2 separate regions of the Homo sapiens genome follow, and region 1 is linked to region 2. Evidence: fine-mapped expression QTL. Tissue or cell type: tibial artery. Region 2 holds a variant in brackets; the other region holds the start of a gene. All regions are shown on one strand. Distances are between the middles of the regions.

Region 1 (8,108 bases), 250 kb before region 2:
GTGTGCAGCTTTCCATCACACCACACTGCTTCTTTTGGTCACTGCCTTCTTAGAGAAAGGATTTTTTAGTTCAAATGAGGAAATCCTCCAAAGCAAACATGATACTCAACTTTGAGGCATTCTGCCTAGAATTTATTGCCATGGTAGACATTGAAAAGGTTCTTTATTTTCATGGTTTGATGTTCATGGGAGAATCTGAACTCTTTACATCGGCGGGTTCATCATTTAAACATCAGAATACTTTTGGAAACCCAGAAATTTGTAAGTTGAGTTTGTCATAAACAACTTACTCTGTTGGAACGGATGAGTGCAGAGAAGGGAACACTCCCTCCTTTCTGTTCTATTGCACCCGATGGCGATGGGGAAGGGAGAGCCCTTACGTTAAAGATCACATATTAGGAAAGTCGGGAGACAAGATAAAAGTTAGGGCTTTGAGTATAAACCCAGGGATTTGAATATAAACCAAGGAGAGCCTCTAGCTAACAAAGGCAATGTGGACATTTGAGAAGAGGGACCCTGTGGCCTGAGGGCTAGTGGAATGAGCGGTTGGGTGAGGCAGAGTGTGGTGGGGCTTAGCATTGAGGTAATGGTCTTAGGCAATATTATTATAATTCAGATCCACCACTTTGAGAAAGAATATGAGGACAACCGTGTCTGCCAAGGCAAAGGATAGGAGCGGGCCCAGAGTGCAGAAAGTTGAGAATTGCCAGGGAAGTTGAGGGAGACTGCCACGTAGAATACAAGGCTGCAGTTTAAAGAGAGAGGTATTTTTTTTCTACTCACTGGACTGGAAAGCTTGAGGAAGCTAGGCAAGTCGTGAAAGCAAAATCTCTTGCTTCTTAACCTGCGGGTTAGCCTTAGAGCAAAAAGCATATTTTGCTCTAAAAAAATCTGATAAAATACATCCTGTCTGTGGTTCACAAGCCACTTTGGATTTAGGTGAGTGGGAGAGAACATGAGGGAACTTAATGGGGAGAGGGAGAGAGGGCATGGCTGAGGCATTGTTCCTGCCTAGTTTCTCCTTTTCCTCAGTTTCATCCCTGTTCTGTACTTGGAGCAAAAATCAAGATAAAATCAATAAAAGTTTGCAGACAAATTGAATACAGAAGACCCAATTCTGCCCTGGCATGAAGTAGGCACCACTTTTACCCACAATCCACATCCCTTATCCCCACACCTGGGGGGTGGTATGGTGAGAGAAAAGGGACTTGGATAGGAAAAAGTAATACAAATTCAGCATCCACATGGTATACAGAGAATAGTGCTTTTCATAGGTACACAGGCAGAGTCATAGCTTACATACATGGGCACGCATTTAACCACAGGACTTATGTATGGCTGTTCAGATTCAAACTTCTAACCAGATATTCTGGGTCTAAAAAGGACCACAGAGATCCTCTGATCCAGCCCACTGCCTTATATAGGATGTACCTACTGGCCCAGAGAGAAGAGTCTGTTCAAAGCCATTCAAAGGAAAAAAAAGAGGACACAATTTTAATTCGGTTGCTCAATAACTCTATCAAAAAATAAAAAGCAATTCAAAATGATAAAAGGAACACAGGTGGTTACAAGATCCAGAAACAAATCCAAAATATCACCATTTAGTATACATAACATCTCAGTCCCTCAGTTTCCACATAGCACAATGGGAATATGTTAGCTTCCCTGTCTACTTCAGAGTGTTATTGGGAGAATGTAATGAAATTATGTATGTGAACATACTCTTTATTGTTAAAGATAAGGCTAAAGCAGGGCAGTAGTATTAGGAAGCACTTATTTTAACAAGTTAAATTTCTTTTCTGTCTTTAGGGGAAACTAATGAAATTTGATCATGTGCTTTAAATAAGACATGCACCAACATTTAAAAGACTAATATAAAAATTGCCCCTCCACCATTCTCTACACCTCCCTATTTCACCCCTCCTTTTTTGGCTGACTTGCCCTTTTGGCCGAATAAGCCCATCCTATATGTCTACTTTTCCAGCCTTTCAAGAATCAAATTCTGATTTTATAGAATGTTATGTTGGAAAGTCTGTTAGAAATCACTTAGTACAACTTCTTTCTTTTGTTGTAAGGTAAAGGCACTTGCCCAGGGTTATGTAGTTAGTGACAGAGCCCACACTAAAACTGGGACCTCCCAACGTTTTTTTTTAAACCACAATTTGTTGTAAGGTGGGGAGGAGGGCAAACATGCAGACACAATATGTCAAGCAAGACGTTGCTTTTAAAAATTCATATTGTACTCTTCTCACAAGAATGCACTTAGAAGTTTTGTTTTTGAATTGCAAGCTGTCAGAAGGTGAGATGATTTCAAATCAAGGCTAATCAAAGAAACACTGTTTTGGGGTCACAAAGGGACTTTTTCTGCTTTTAATTTAGGAACTGAAAACTCCCAAGGATATGGAAAGCCTGCTTTTTAACCTATTCCTGACCATGTAAGTGTTTAGACTTTTTCCCTAGACTGCTAGGGAGTCTAAGGACAAATAAAGAACGCTATTTGAATACAAAGTATTCACACACACCCAGGCACACACGTGCACATAAGCATGCTCACACACACACACAAACTTCCAGAGGAATAAAAGAGTTAATTAGCAGTCCACAAATAATTTTTTTGTTTATTACTTCAGACTGTAAAGTGTTCTTACTTTCACAATAAAGATTAGCAAATGAGGCATTAGCTGAATTTCAATACACCAATAATACAAACCAGGATGTTTTATCCTGAAGCCAGAAGTAATTGTTAGGACAGCAGAATTTGCTGAGTTTTCCTATGTGCTTTTCAGCAAACTTACAGTTCCAAATCCTCAGAACCAATTGTTTCCATTACAATGCACCGCTCCTTTTTCCCGTCCCCCACCCAAAGCCAGTTCTGATCAAGTGGTCCAGTGAAGACCCTAGAACAGTGTACTTGGCCTGGGAGTGGAGGATGGAGCCCCATCTTGAAATCAAAGTTTAAACCAAAGCTGGAATCAGAGGGGAACAAAGCCAGGCCAGAGGCTGAAAATGGAATAGCCAAGATCAACCTGTCACCAGGGCAGGAAGACCACTGGCTGTGCAGACAGGGAGTTAAGATAGACTTGGCCACCACTTCCTCCTGTACAACACTGCACAGCCTGCTCACCCTCCTACCAGAGTTCACAGGCCTTTTGCACACAGTGTGGCTCCAAGATTTTGCTCGCATTTCAATAATTTTCCCACAGCTGTGGGTCAGCAGAAGCTAGAAGGAGGCCCTGAAAGGAGCCACGCTTCTCCCCCTCAACACCATCCCCTGTGATTTTTCCTCACTTACCAGGTATTTTGGGTAGCAGAAGGCAAACACATACACATGCACGCGTGTGTGCACACACACAAAAAACTGACCAGATATCCCCAGAAAAGTTTCATTGCCAGACAACCACAATCATCACCCCACACACCCCTCAAAATAACCAACCAAAAATTCCATTATTTTTGAAGTTCTCAAACTGCTATTAACGGGCACATATTTGATCCAGACAAGCCATAAAATATAGCTGTGGAGTTTGGTTAACTACAAAGTTGAAGTTTCTTCATCTTTCTTAGACGCTAAGTTATCCAGGAAATAAAACTCCAGGGTAAGTTTGCGAATTCCCTCTCTACTCACCTGAGTTATCCCAGGAGCCCTGCTGCTGCTGCTGCTGCTGCTGCTGCTGCTGCTGCCGTTGCCGCTGCTGCTGTTAGCCAGGTAACCCCACTAAAAGTCTGTTCAGTCAGTGTGGCTGAACAAAGATTCTGGCTTTCTTAACCTGAAAACTATTTGGGCTGTACCAAGCTCTGCTCACAGGGGGAGGTGCCTCGCAGCAACTTCAGGAGGCTTTGCCCCGCCCAGCAGTCAGAAACTGATCCTGAGTCATGAGGAAAATGTGGAAAGTGCCTCTACCAGATGTGCAGACGGGATGCCCACTCCAGACCCACCCACCAGCAAACTGAAAAACTCAGGAAGCCACGTTTGAAAGCTCTTTCGGTTTCAAGGAGAAATAAGACTTTCAGCGAGGATTCTGATAGATTTCTTACTTTTCTGTCCCAGGGTTAATATCACAGACATGCACATTACTAGAGAGAGGACATGCAGAGAAAAATGGTGAAGTGTTGGCAAAGTTAATATGGGCTAGGCTGCAGACATGGCCCTGGTCAGACATGGCCCTGGTAGGCAGATCTGTGATAGTGATGAGGACTTCAGGAAGTGACTGGGAGTGAAAGAGCAGCTAATGGGGTGCAATGAAGAAAAGGTCACTTCGTGAAACAACAGGTAACATTTGGTCAAAGACAGAGAGAAGGGATTGTTAAGAGGAAAGTGAATGGAGTTTATTCCACAGCAGCTATAAGAACCCTAATTTCTAGCAACCAGGCTATGAAGATTCTGCACAGCTGTGTTAGGTGAGAGGAGAGAAAATAATTGTTTTTGCTCTGAAAGGCCAAGCAAGATCCCTATAAATACTATACTGCATCACAGTCAAAGTCCTGGTCCCTTCAACCTGAGACATTCATTTGGACACAATTCCAGGAACATGATTCTCAAGTTGTTTTGTTTGTTTCATTTTCACAAACTGTAAAGATGCTCATCATCTCATTCCTCAGCTTTCCTGACCAGTGTACTGTTAACCCTTGAACCTGAAATTACTTCCTTCTACCCCTCCTCCTGCACCAACCCTCCTGCTGGCTAGTTGAAGATGTAAGAGATAAGGGGGGTTGGGGATAACAAGTGAGCAACATAGAGCTCAACAAGGACAGGAAGCATGTTCTCTCTCCACTCACTGGGCCCATACCAATGTTTTCATAAAACAGTTCTGAGCATTTCTATAACTCTGGTCTCTGAGATCTCCTTCTTGGCATTTCCCTACAACTCCCTCTGTACCTTCTATGCCAAGATGGAAATTCAGCTAGAGGTAGGGCACAAGGAAACAGGGGTCCAGGGCAATTAGGCCTCTAAATATTGGCAACCATTCAGCTAGACAGTGAGATAGTCCTCAAGCAAATATCCCTGGTATGGAATTTTGGTTTTAAAATCAACGGAGGATGTTTTGTCTGGGCTCATATTCTTTAGCCATCTTTTCCACCTTCATACTTGTAAATCTAGCAGGGAATCACAGAACCTGGGAATTGGAAGGAACCTTAGAAGCCATGTTTATCCTCTTGCTCAGTGCAGAAATATCCTTCTGACAGTCTGAGAAACTCATCCCTATGCAAAACAGCTTATTCCATATTTGATCATTTCCTAATTGTTAAAAGGGTCTTCCTTAGGTTGAGGAAAAAATAGCTTCACACAAACAATTTCTAATTCCTCTTTCACATGACAGCCCTTTAAAATATCTAGCATGTCACGCCAAGTCATTCATCCTCTGGGCTAAATATCCTCAGTTCTTTCAAACCATGCCTCATAGGACATGGTTTACAGACTTTTTGCCACTCTAGTTGTCTTTTGAGCATAAATCTACTCAGTGTGCAGCCCGTAGCTTAATCAAAATCCTCTGTTGTTTCTTGCATGAACTACTACTATGTGCCTGATTCTAGGTTTGTACAATTGACTTTTAATTTTACCTGGATGCTGGGCTTTGTATTCATTCTCAAAAACCATTGCCTTGTTTATTTTAATCTATCTCCTTAAGATCTTTCTTTATCTTGAGCCTCATATACAAAATCATATTCTCCATAGTAATGTTTCTCAATCTTTTTTTATCATTATCACGGTCCTAAAGAGCCTTTTTAGATATTTTTCCCAATGTCTCTCCGTGAAATTTTAATACCACAGATATGCTGTCTATCTGTTTATTTGCTGTCTATCTGTTTATTTGCTGTATGTATATCTCTGTTTCATGTAAAAAAGAAATTTTTTTTTCACTCTTCAAGAATCAATTTTTGCCCTCTTGGGGGCAATATCACCCCCATTGAGAATGCATGATCTGTATCAATAAATGTTTTATATGTGTATTTGATCAGCCAGACTGATGAAAGTATTGAATGAGAGGGTCCAGGACAGAATACTGCAGCATAACCTTAAGAGTCTTCCCCTTTTGATAAGGTTGTTCAAACTTGAAACAATCCATATAACTCCTGCTACCACCCAGCTCTGACTTTTCCATCTTCTTCATGAAGATATCATAAGACTTTTTCAAATGTCTTGCTGAAATCCAGATACAGTATACTATGGTATCCCAGTGATCTATCCTTTTAGATACCCTTTTCAAAAAGGAAACGGACTTAGTTAGGCATGTCTTGCTTTTAGTCATCCCATGCTTACCCCTAGTGATTTCCGCTCCCTTTCTAAAGCCTCACAAACGATCTGCCTAACAGTGCATTCTACACTTTTGCCAAGGATAAATGCCATGCTCATTGGTCTTCAGTTTCCAGGATCTATATTTTGCACCCCACACCACCACCACCTACCTTCACTAAAAATTGGGATATTTCCCTGCCTCTTTGCACCCCTCATGTCTTCTCTTTGCCATAATTTCTCAAAGGTTACCAAGACTGGCTCTGTGATCACATCTGCACATTCTCTCAGCAGCCTCAAATGTGATTTGTGTGGGCCTGGAAACTCATTGAAGGCAGCTAAGGACTCCTTTATTATCTCCTCATCTATCTTGGGCTTTAATTCTCTTTCCAGTTCAAAGATCATGCTCCTTGATGGAGAGGTTAATTAACTTGCCCACAGCCACACACCTAGTAAATTGGCAGAGCTGGGATTTAAATCAGGCTCTATTTAACTCTGAAGACTGGCTCTTAACCAGAATGCTATGAGATTTCAAACACCAAATGAGTGGTATGGCCTATGGGTGTTGTATGAGTTCCAAAATGGGAGAGAACTATTTTAATAAGAGTAGTCGAGGCAGGCCTTATACAAGAGGTGAAATTTGAACTGGATCTTAAATAATGAGTAGGATCCCAATAGGAACAAAATAATGATGTGTGCATATGTTGGTAGGAATCAGGGAAGAGACTGAGGATGGCATCCCAGTCAGAGGAAATAACAAAGAATAATAAAGGATAAGAATTGCCACCTTGGTCTGCCTCATAGTCTACTTGGTTGATCATTATGAACACTAAGATACCACAAATGGTCAAGAGAGAGCCAGAGTGTTCCTGCCTTACCTTAATAATAGTTTATTAAAGCTCTGATGCTTGCTACTTGTATATTCTAGGGCAAGGCACAGCCCTTCTGGTCCTTGGTTTCCTGCTCTATAAAATAGGAATAAAACAGTCCTATTTTCAATAAGCATTTACTGAGCTCCTACTATATACCAGATACTATGCTAGTTGCTGGAGTTATAATGGCAGGCTATAATAAGAAACATGATCTCACCCTCAATAATTAAAAATCAGTCATGTATTTGCTTTGTGGAAGTTTTCAGTCCATACTACTATTTTGTTCCATTATCTGGGTAATGTGGCACATTTTACTTATCTTAAAATGACCTCATTTAAAAGCTTGTGGGGATAGTGGTAAGGAGGCTTTTGATATGGTAGCCTAGGATTTGTGGAGCAAGTTGGTGTCTGCTGTCTCCAAGATGTTATAGATTCTGGTTAATTCCATCTCAGCCCTCACCCAAGTCTTGGATTCTGTTCTTTTGCTTCCTCTAGCCTCATTCCCAGCCCAATATTTTCCCCTATATTGGGCATTTTCCATCCCTAGATTGTAAAACTGAGTTCCCTGAGGGAGAAAAAAAAGCCAGCTGCACCCAGTATGCCAAGTGGTTGGCAGGGGCGGGGGTTGCTGTACATTGGTGTAGTATGGCTCTGCCGTGTGGGGCAGTGTCATTTGGTTTTGGCTAGCTAACTACAGTCCTTGCCTCTTTTTAGCTTGAAATCCTCTAAGGCCAGTGAAAGTGTGAACAGAAGCCACGGAAGAGGATGGACTGTCAGCTTCCAAACCAAATAGCCTTGGGGTGGAGTTCAACCAAGATTTTGGGAGAGTGTAAGTTGGATATCTTCTCTGTTGGCCTGGTTAACACAAAAATATGCTTCGCTGGCTGGCAGCAGAACTTTTTTTTAATCAGGGGAAGCAACTCATTTGCCTTGTCAACAAAAGGGCTCTAGTTTCTCAATATTAGTCAAAGGAAACCTCTGTCCCTAGTAATTGAAATAAATGG
Region 2 (8,108 bases):
GATGAGATTTCAGCTCTGGAATTATATAGGCAGGTGTCATGCAGAAAAATGTAAAATTACCAGTGGGTTGTTCCCAGAACCTTATCATGTTAAAGAAAATAAAAGTAACTACTAGGAGCACCCTGAGAACCAAACAGAGATCAGGGTACACTTATTTTATATCTCCAGCACCTAAAAAAGTGTCTGGAACTTGATTGGCACTCAATAAATGTTTGCCAAAGAAATGTTAATCTGATTTTGGAGGCCTGTGGAGAACTTGGTTGCTCTTGCTACAAATAAGTTTCACTCAAAGAATCCCTCTCGGGCTTGATTGATGCAGAAAGTTATTCCCTTATCATTCTGGGGAGCAAAATTCATGATCTAGGAGTGTATGTTATTTTGCTCCTATGAGGTTATATACACTATGCTGATGTCAAAAATTAGTGAGAACTTGACATTTCAATGTTTATACTAAAAACACAAGACTTTTTGTTACTAAGATTTTATTTACCAAATTAATGACAAAATATGCAATTAGAAAACCAAAGGTGCATATTCATGTCACTTGTGAGTATTTTGGTTTACATTAGAAGTGAAGTAAACCAGATGTACAAGTTAATATTGGACATTGACCAGTTATTAAACACTTTCTCTTTTCCCTTTCCCCCAAACTTCTCTTCCTCTTTTTTTGCTCCATTCTTTCTCAATATTACCTCCTTCCCTTCCTTCTCCCCCTCATAATCACTCATTTCCTGCCCCATCTTATCTCCATCCCACATCCCTCATAGTCTTTACTCATTTCTCACATTTCTTTCTTTTCCTCCTCTCTCCCTTCCCTCTTCCTCTATCTTCCTTTCTTTCTTTCCCTAATTCCTTACCCCCTTTTCCATTCCTCACTCTCCTCCTTTTCCCTCAACAGCTTTCAATCACTTTTACAAAGACTAGAAACTGATTTTTATTGCATGAGCTTTCCAGAAAGAACTGCAGGATACTAAAATAATTCTTTCCACAAAAAATCATATCCTTCAGAATTAATAGAATTTGAATTCCTTTTGAAATTGCATGGTTGTTTTTCTTTCCAAATGGTGCAGAGCTTTTAACAGAGCAATCATATTATCTGTGCAACTCATTAATTAGTTAGCAAAGAGAGCCATGACAATCCTGTTTGAAAAGCTTTTATGAGAAGTAGTCACAGATATAGGACCAGAGTAACAAAAAAGAGGATTTCCTAATATCTAACGTTGCATTTATTCATTTCAAAGTCCTTAATGGATTTAAGGAATTAAATTGATAAACCTCCCTAAATTGACCAGACTGTTTGGTCTCCCGAAGACTGTAGAGGCTTTAAGAAATATGTGATTAGCTAGTTTTCCAAACTTTCAAAGGAAATGTTTAAAGAAATTGACAAGGTTAGCTGAGATCATTGTTCTCTAAGCTTCTCCAAGCTTCATAGAATTCTAATAAATATTGAATAAGTATTCAGACCTAAGGAAGATTCAGAGTCAATTGTGTAGGAGGCAGAAAATGTAGTATCAATTGTTATTGAAAATTATCTGCAGACACAAGTGAACTTTCTAAAATTTAATTTAAAATCTAACCAATCCCATGTAGTTTTCCTTTAAAATCTTGTAACTGAAATAGCACTTCATGAAGAGAGTTTCTAACAAGGTGATAATTTCTTAATTCTAGATTATAATCTGGAATTTAGTCTCCAATAAGAAATTGAACAGTGGGGGAAGGGAATAAAAAGAAAAGAGAAAGTTATATTCTTCTCCAAGCTATATTAGCAATCGGATCAGAGATAAGACTGTGCCTCTCTTTGAACTGTAAATGTTAGGTACATTTCTTCATCATACCCATGCATTTATTCAATAATTCTTGAGCAGCTACTGCAAGCAAAGCTGTATCAGGGATAGACTGCTGAAAATGATCCTCAAGAATTTTGTAAGTTACAATTTAGAAGAAAACATATCAACTAGATACCTGCAATATTTGTCAAATTTAATTCCTCTAAGAGAAATACAAAGCATTGTGGAAATTAGGGTTAGGGTGGAAAGTCAAGATCAGCTTCATGAACTAAATCTTGAAGAATTGTAGTATTTCCTCACCCAGAGATGTGTGAAGATAGAAGGAACTGGTCAAACAAAAATGTGGAAGCAGGGAAGTAGGTAAGAGTGAGCATTACAGTTTTATTGGAAAGAGGGTAATGGAAGGAATTAAGGTAAGCCAGGGCCAAGGCATTGACAGCCTTAAATGTCAAGCTAAGGAGAATGGAGTAAAATCCAAAGGCAACATGTAGACTTCCAACATTTTATTTCTTTTTCCTTTTTCATTCCACTAGACTAGTTATAAATAAATTGTATAGTAATAAAATATAGAATAAAATAGCAAGTTGAAGATTACACAGTTTGGTATATTTTTTATAAAGTTCAAAACAAATAATACTAACATCGTTTAGGCATAGGGGTGTGTGTGTGTGTGTGTGTGTAAATAAAAGGAAGGTAATGAGTCACAAAATTCAGAATATTGGTTATTGGTTATTTCTGGAGAAGGATAGGTAAGAGGATGAGATGGGAGGAGCATAGGTAGATGTCGTGTAAATTATTAGTTATTCTCAATCTTAAAGTTGGTAGATGTTTGCCCACAGATGTTTGTCCATGGGTGTTCAATATATTATTAAATAAGTGAATAAAAAGAGCTCAAATTTACCAGTGATGACAATGTGCCATAAACCAAGGAGTATGACTTACCTGATTCTGTATACTTGGGGTCCAAAAGGGAGTATAAAGATACTAGAATAGTGTAGAGGTTTCTCCCACTTGACTTGCACTAGCAGTGAGTGTTTATTTTTCCTTACCCTTCTTTTCTGGAAGGCAGGTGAAAAAGTAACTTAGGAGATACATGGGTGAAAAATCCATTAAGCTCTTATCTCTAGGTTACTACCATTCTTAAGGAAAGGAGCTGCTGGGAGAAGTGGTGAGGAGGAAGGCCAGTGAGACTGACAACCTATATATGAAGCACTCTGAATACATAGTGAAGCAATTGAGCTGTGTGGGCTGTCTGGGACTGTTAGAGTCCTGATTTGAAGTGCTCTGTTCTATTTGTAGACTGGTGTTTCTCAGCCCTGGCTGCATATCAAAATCACCTGTGGAGCTTTTAAGCAATACAGATGTTCATGCCCCATACAGAGCTACTGAATCAGAAACCCTGAAGAAAAGACCCAGTTATATATATTTTCAAAAACATACTAAGTAATATTAAAGTAGAGCAAGGACTGAAAAACATTCCCTGAAGAGTGTGCTTAGAAACAAGTGGGTAACTTGTTTCAAACATTGATTCCAGGATACTGTCCCCAGAGATTCTAATCTAAGAAAAAAGGGAAAGGGTCTGGGAAAGGGTCCGTGTTTTTATTCATAATAAACACCCTGTAGGTGATTCTGATGAAGGCACTTCCCTTGACCACTCTGAGAAACACTGCCCCAAAGGTTCCAAAACACTAGGGTTTCAGGGTGATTAGTCCATATATTTGCTTCCTAAAACTGCCATAAAAAATTGTATAAGCTAGGTGACTTAAAACAACAGAAATTTATTCTTTCAGGCCTGGAGTATAGAAGTCTGGAATCATGGCATCAGTAGGGCCGTGCACTCTCTGAAATCTGTAGGGTAGACTCCTTCCTTGCCACTTCGAGCCTCTGGTATTTGCTGGCAATCCTCAGCATTCCTTGGCTGGTAGATGCACCACTCTAATCTCTGCCTCTGTCTTCTGCTTGTATGCCTCTGTCTTCTCCTCTTCTTGTGAGAACACCAGTCATTATATTAGGGCCAACCTAATATATTGACTTGATTCCATCTACAAGGTCTTATTTCCAAATAAG[G/T]TTACATTCACAGTTACTGGAGTTTAGGACTTCACCATTTTTGGGGGGTGACACTATTCACCCATAACACTGTTTTAAATGCTTTTAAAAGTACAGCCTCCAAACAACCAATAAGATAGATTAGCTGTATTCTTTAGCTGGGCTATCTAGAGAGAAAAAACAATAATTAACTCTCAAAGCTCAGTATACAAAGAAATACTTGAAAGGCTTGTGTTTAGTATGCGTATTCCTGGGCCTTGATCCCAGCTAATCAAATATCAAAATAGCTGCACTTGTAAGGATAGAAAAATGTTTCCTAGACCATTGCTCCAAATATAGTGGAAAGATATTATATATCTCTCTCTCTCTCTCTGCTCTTGTTTCTTATGAACCAAGTTATTCTGTATGGGCAATAGGAACAGTAAGCAGGTAGACTAAGAAAAATATGGATTATGGAAAGTATAGTAACGTGGGCTAGGGAATACAAACTTTAAGCTGAAGTGTTCCCAAGCTGGGGGCAAAATTCAATATGATAGGAAAAATAATGTGACCGTTGGAGCTATTTCTATGAACTCTCCTTGGGTATGTTAACAACAGACAGAACTAGGCTACATTGTTAGCAATCTACTATTGCACATAGAAGTGTGACAGGTGATGGTTGTTTATATTGTTTATTTTAGCCACCCATATTCAAAATTCATGTTTAGAATGGCAAGTTAAATCATTTTGGAAGACTTCAGCAGTGAATAGTTGACCCTATTTACACAGTGGAATGTTTTTGCCAATAAAAAGAAGGTTCTAGCTTTACCAACGATAAAGCATGCAGTGCATTTATTTGCTCAGAATAGGCATACCCTCTCAATTCCTTCTGGTCTATAACTATTGGGGGGAAATGTCTATTTCCACTCTACAGATCTAAATGAGAGAGATAGAACAAAAAAAGAAAATTGGAGGAAGCCTGCATTCCTGAATGTTCCCCTGATTCATTAAAGTAACAATTGTCACTGGGATCTGGAGATTGAAAAACAATTCCTTAAACTTAGGATTCCTTTGTTTCAGTGCTAGGCTTTCTGGTTCAACTAGATCAGTGGTTCTTAGTCCTGGCTGCGCTTTGAAGTTACTTGGAAAAGACTTTATTGCTTTTCTTCTATCTCTCTTATTTAGATATGTGGGGTAAAAATAGACATTTTTCCCCAGTGTTTTTAGACCAGAAGGAATTGAGAGGGTGTGCCTATTCTGAGCAAATAAATGCATCCTTCATCATTGGTATAGATAGAACCTTCTTTTTGTGGGCAAAAGCATTCCACCATGTAAATAGGGTCAACTATTTACTGCTGAAGTCTTCCAAAATGATTTAACTTGGCATTCTAAACATGAACTTTGAATATGGGTGGCTATTTTTTTTTTTAATAGCAGTGCTTGGGTCCCATCCCAGACCAATAAAGTCTGAATCTCTAGAGTGGTGCCCAGGCCCCTACTGTGGAGATTATGATTCAGGAAGTCTAGGTTTGGGCCCAGGATCTGTATATTAATAAGTACCCCCAAGTAAATCTTATGATCAGTTGGTTTAGAAAACGTTGTTCTAATATAGGTTAGTCATTAGCTGCTGTTTACTGATGTGATTTTTTTCTTTAACCTTTTAAAAGCTATTTTCTACAGAGAAGAAAAAGCATTCTAAAATTAGTTTGCATATAGCAAACCATTTTGCAATTTATCAATTTATTTTTATTTCAAAATACATTGCCATTTGTTTTTCTTAGAGATAACTGAATCTTTTATTTTTGTTTTTGATTTTCAGGAAAATCAATATCTGTTGGAGAATCTGAAGAGCCAAATCTCCTGAGCCTAGGCCTACTGCTGTCAGCATCTCTGAGACCTCTCTCACCTGAGAATTACCAGGTCTGACAACACTTTCCCTCCAGCCTACAGTGAGGGATGTCAACAAAGCTACAGAAAACTCACATTCTGTAGACTTACAAGCTGTGCAGCTGGGCAGGAACCTTACAATCTCCATCCTTAGGGAAGGTTCAGAAATACAGATAAACGGGGTGAAAACTCAGATAAGCTGAGCCTGATATATACAAAAGCCTTCAGATAGTCTCCTCGCAGAAGAGCCCAATTAAGTCCACATAATTAGTCCACACATCTAGATTAGGTATAGGCAAAACGAGCCTTTTCTCCATCTACGAAAACAGAGCAAAACACTGATATAATACTCTAAAAGATTCTTGTTCTAATAACAGTATTATAAAGCAGTTTCACCCATATTTATTTTAATCAGTATAAAAGTAGGAGTGTGGAAAATAAAACATTACTTGTATTTTTAAAAATTGATTAAGAAGCTCTGATAAAACCTATTGGAGGGGCGATTGCTGTGCTGAAGGATAGAGAGGGTGTTGCAATTGTCAAATAGCATCACCATTTTCTGCTTGTGTGCTATTGCCTTAGCTCTGAGAGTGATTGGTTTTTACCAGATTGTTAGAACACGTCCAATAGATTTAGAGACAGTCTAAGTGACTGTGAAATGCCTCAAGGGCAGTAGAAATCAAATAGAAACACATACTAACTCAAGTCTTGAGTGATGATGGAGGCGCATTTTAAATACCATGGAAATCTCACTGGGCGTGCCCATTTTCCCACTCTGGCAACAGAGGTTGATACCTCTTCAGACAAGTATTCCAACCTGTACATGTATGTGGGCTTATTCCTGAGCCTCCTGGCCATTCTCCTCATCCTGCTCTTCACAATGCTCCTTCGGCTCAAACATGTCATCTCGCCCATCAACTCTGACAGCACAGAAAGTGTTCCTCAGTTCACAGATGTAGAGATGCAGAGTCGAATCCCCACTCCCTAAAGCCAGGATGAAGGTGAGCTTTAGTGGATCTGGGTAAACCCTTATATATGGATGTCCAGGAGAGCTTGCTTTCTTGCATGAAGCTTCCCATGTAGGGAATCCACAAGTTGTTCATTTAACAGCAAGCTGTTCATGTTTTCTTTGTGTTATTCTTCATCTTTACTCTGCTTGTGGGCTATCTAAAACGTTTAAGACTCACTCTGAAAGGAATATAGGAAAAGACAGCTGGTTGGGAGGGCTGGTTTCCATAGTAACCAAACAGTGCCTGGGCCTTGCACAAACCTCAGACCACAGAAATTCATGCGCAGTGGTTGTAAGAAGCACAGGGTCCCTGGAAGCTCCAAAAACAAACAAAGAAGATTTGCTTTTGAAAGGGCTGATCCTTCAAAGAGGATATCCCAAGAAAAGGACAAGTTCTAATTTAGTGTTTTGATCCTAGAGAATCACCTCTATACAAAGTTAAATTATGTCAGAAGTTAATGGAAGAGAAGCCCTTTCCCTAAACAGCAGTGATTTGATCATCTTAGGCAATCCGGTTTGTTTCAAATGAAAGAAGAGATTTAAAGAAACTGTTTCAGTTTAGAGAGCAAGTTTTCAGAAAGAAGTTTCTAGTAAACAAACTCATCTAGAGAGAGAAAAATGTGCATATTATATCCATATTAATTCTATTCATGCAGCTTCTTTGTCTTTTTCTCTCTCCCTCTCACACTCTAGGATAGAGTTGCACACAAATATGAGCTTTGTTTAAAAGGTGCCTTTGCAAACAAGACTCAACTGTACTTTAGAGCAGAAATAAAATGATGTTGGTATTCTGTTGTTGAATATGGCTTTGGACAAAACATTCAAGCCTTCTGAGTCCCAGGGTTTTTGTGCTGAAAAATGATTAGAGAGCTATTTAGTCATCACTATACTCTTTAGATCTGAGCATAAAAAAAAGAGAGAGAGACAAAGGAGGAAAGGACTAAACAACATCCTCCAACAAATCCTTATTGAGATCAATGTCCTCAAATGTCACATTTGTATTTCCCAGAAAATGTTCCTCCCTTCCTGATCCCTGCCAAAAGATGAAGTGTTTCACTTATTACCTATAAGAGAATTATATTTTGAAAAATTCCATTCTCATAAGTAGCCCTAGTATGCCAGTAGTGTGGAGAGAATTTAATTTTTAAAACTAACTTTTCAAAGGGAAACCAAAGGAGATGAGTACCATTTACAAATCAGAATTTAAAAAACTGGTCATATTCTTGCCACCAAAGGACGAGTACACCTGTGTTAAATTTTACTTGCTAAAACAAAAAATAAGTTATCTTTTGTACCTAAAGGGGGGTCATCAAATTTCACAGAGTACTCTCTCAGGAACTGTAATGATGGTAAGAGAGAAATCAAATAGATGTTAGATTAATGCCACCTCCACCAGAAAT

Direction of the effects. Positions count from the first base shown, and alleles are read on the strand shown. Sizes are in standard deviations (SD) of each study's normalised expression.
As copies of T replace G in region 2, the expression in tibial artery of the gene that starts at base 3,738 in region 1 goes down (small effect, 0.37 SD a copy in GTEx).

The links. PIP is the estimated chance that this variant, and not a neighbour inherited with it, causes the effect.
Region 1: CAPN6 starts here. The variant in region 2 is fine-mapped to the expression of CAPN6 in tibial artery (GTEx, PIP 0.97).

The regions. Positions count from the first base shown.
Region 1 is chrX:111,266,746-111,274,853 of GRCh38, forward strand. It overlaps CAPN6 (calpain 6), which reads right to left and starts at 3,738. Exons shown (of 13, transcript NM_014289.4): 1 at 3,626-3,738.
Region 2 is chrX:111,512,444-111,520,551 of GRCh38, forward strand. It overlaps SERTM2 (serine rich and transmembrane domain containing 2), which reads left to right. Exons shown (of 3, transcript NM_001354473.2): 3 at 5,632-8,108. The coding sequence starts at 6,415. The coding sequence ends at 6,687. Among named protein-coding and RNA genes, the nearest start is that of SERTM2, 4.9 kb to the left of the region's middle. The variant G/T (reference allele first, on the strand shown) is at 3,855.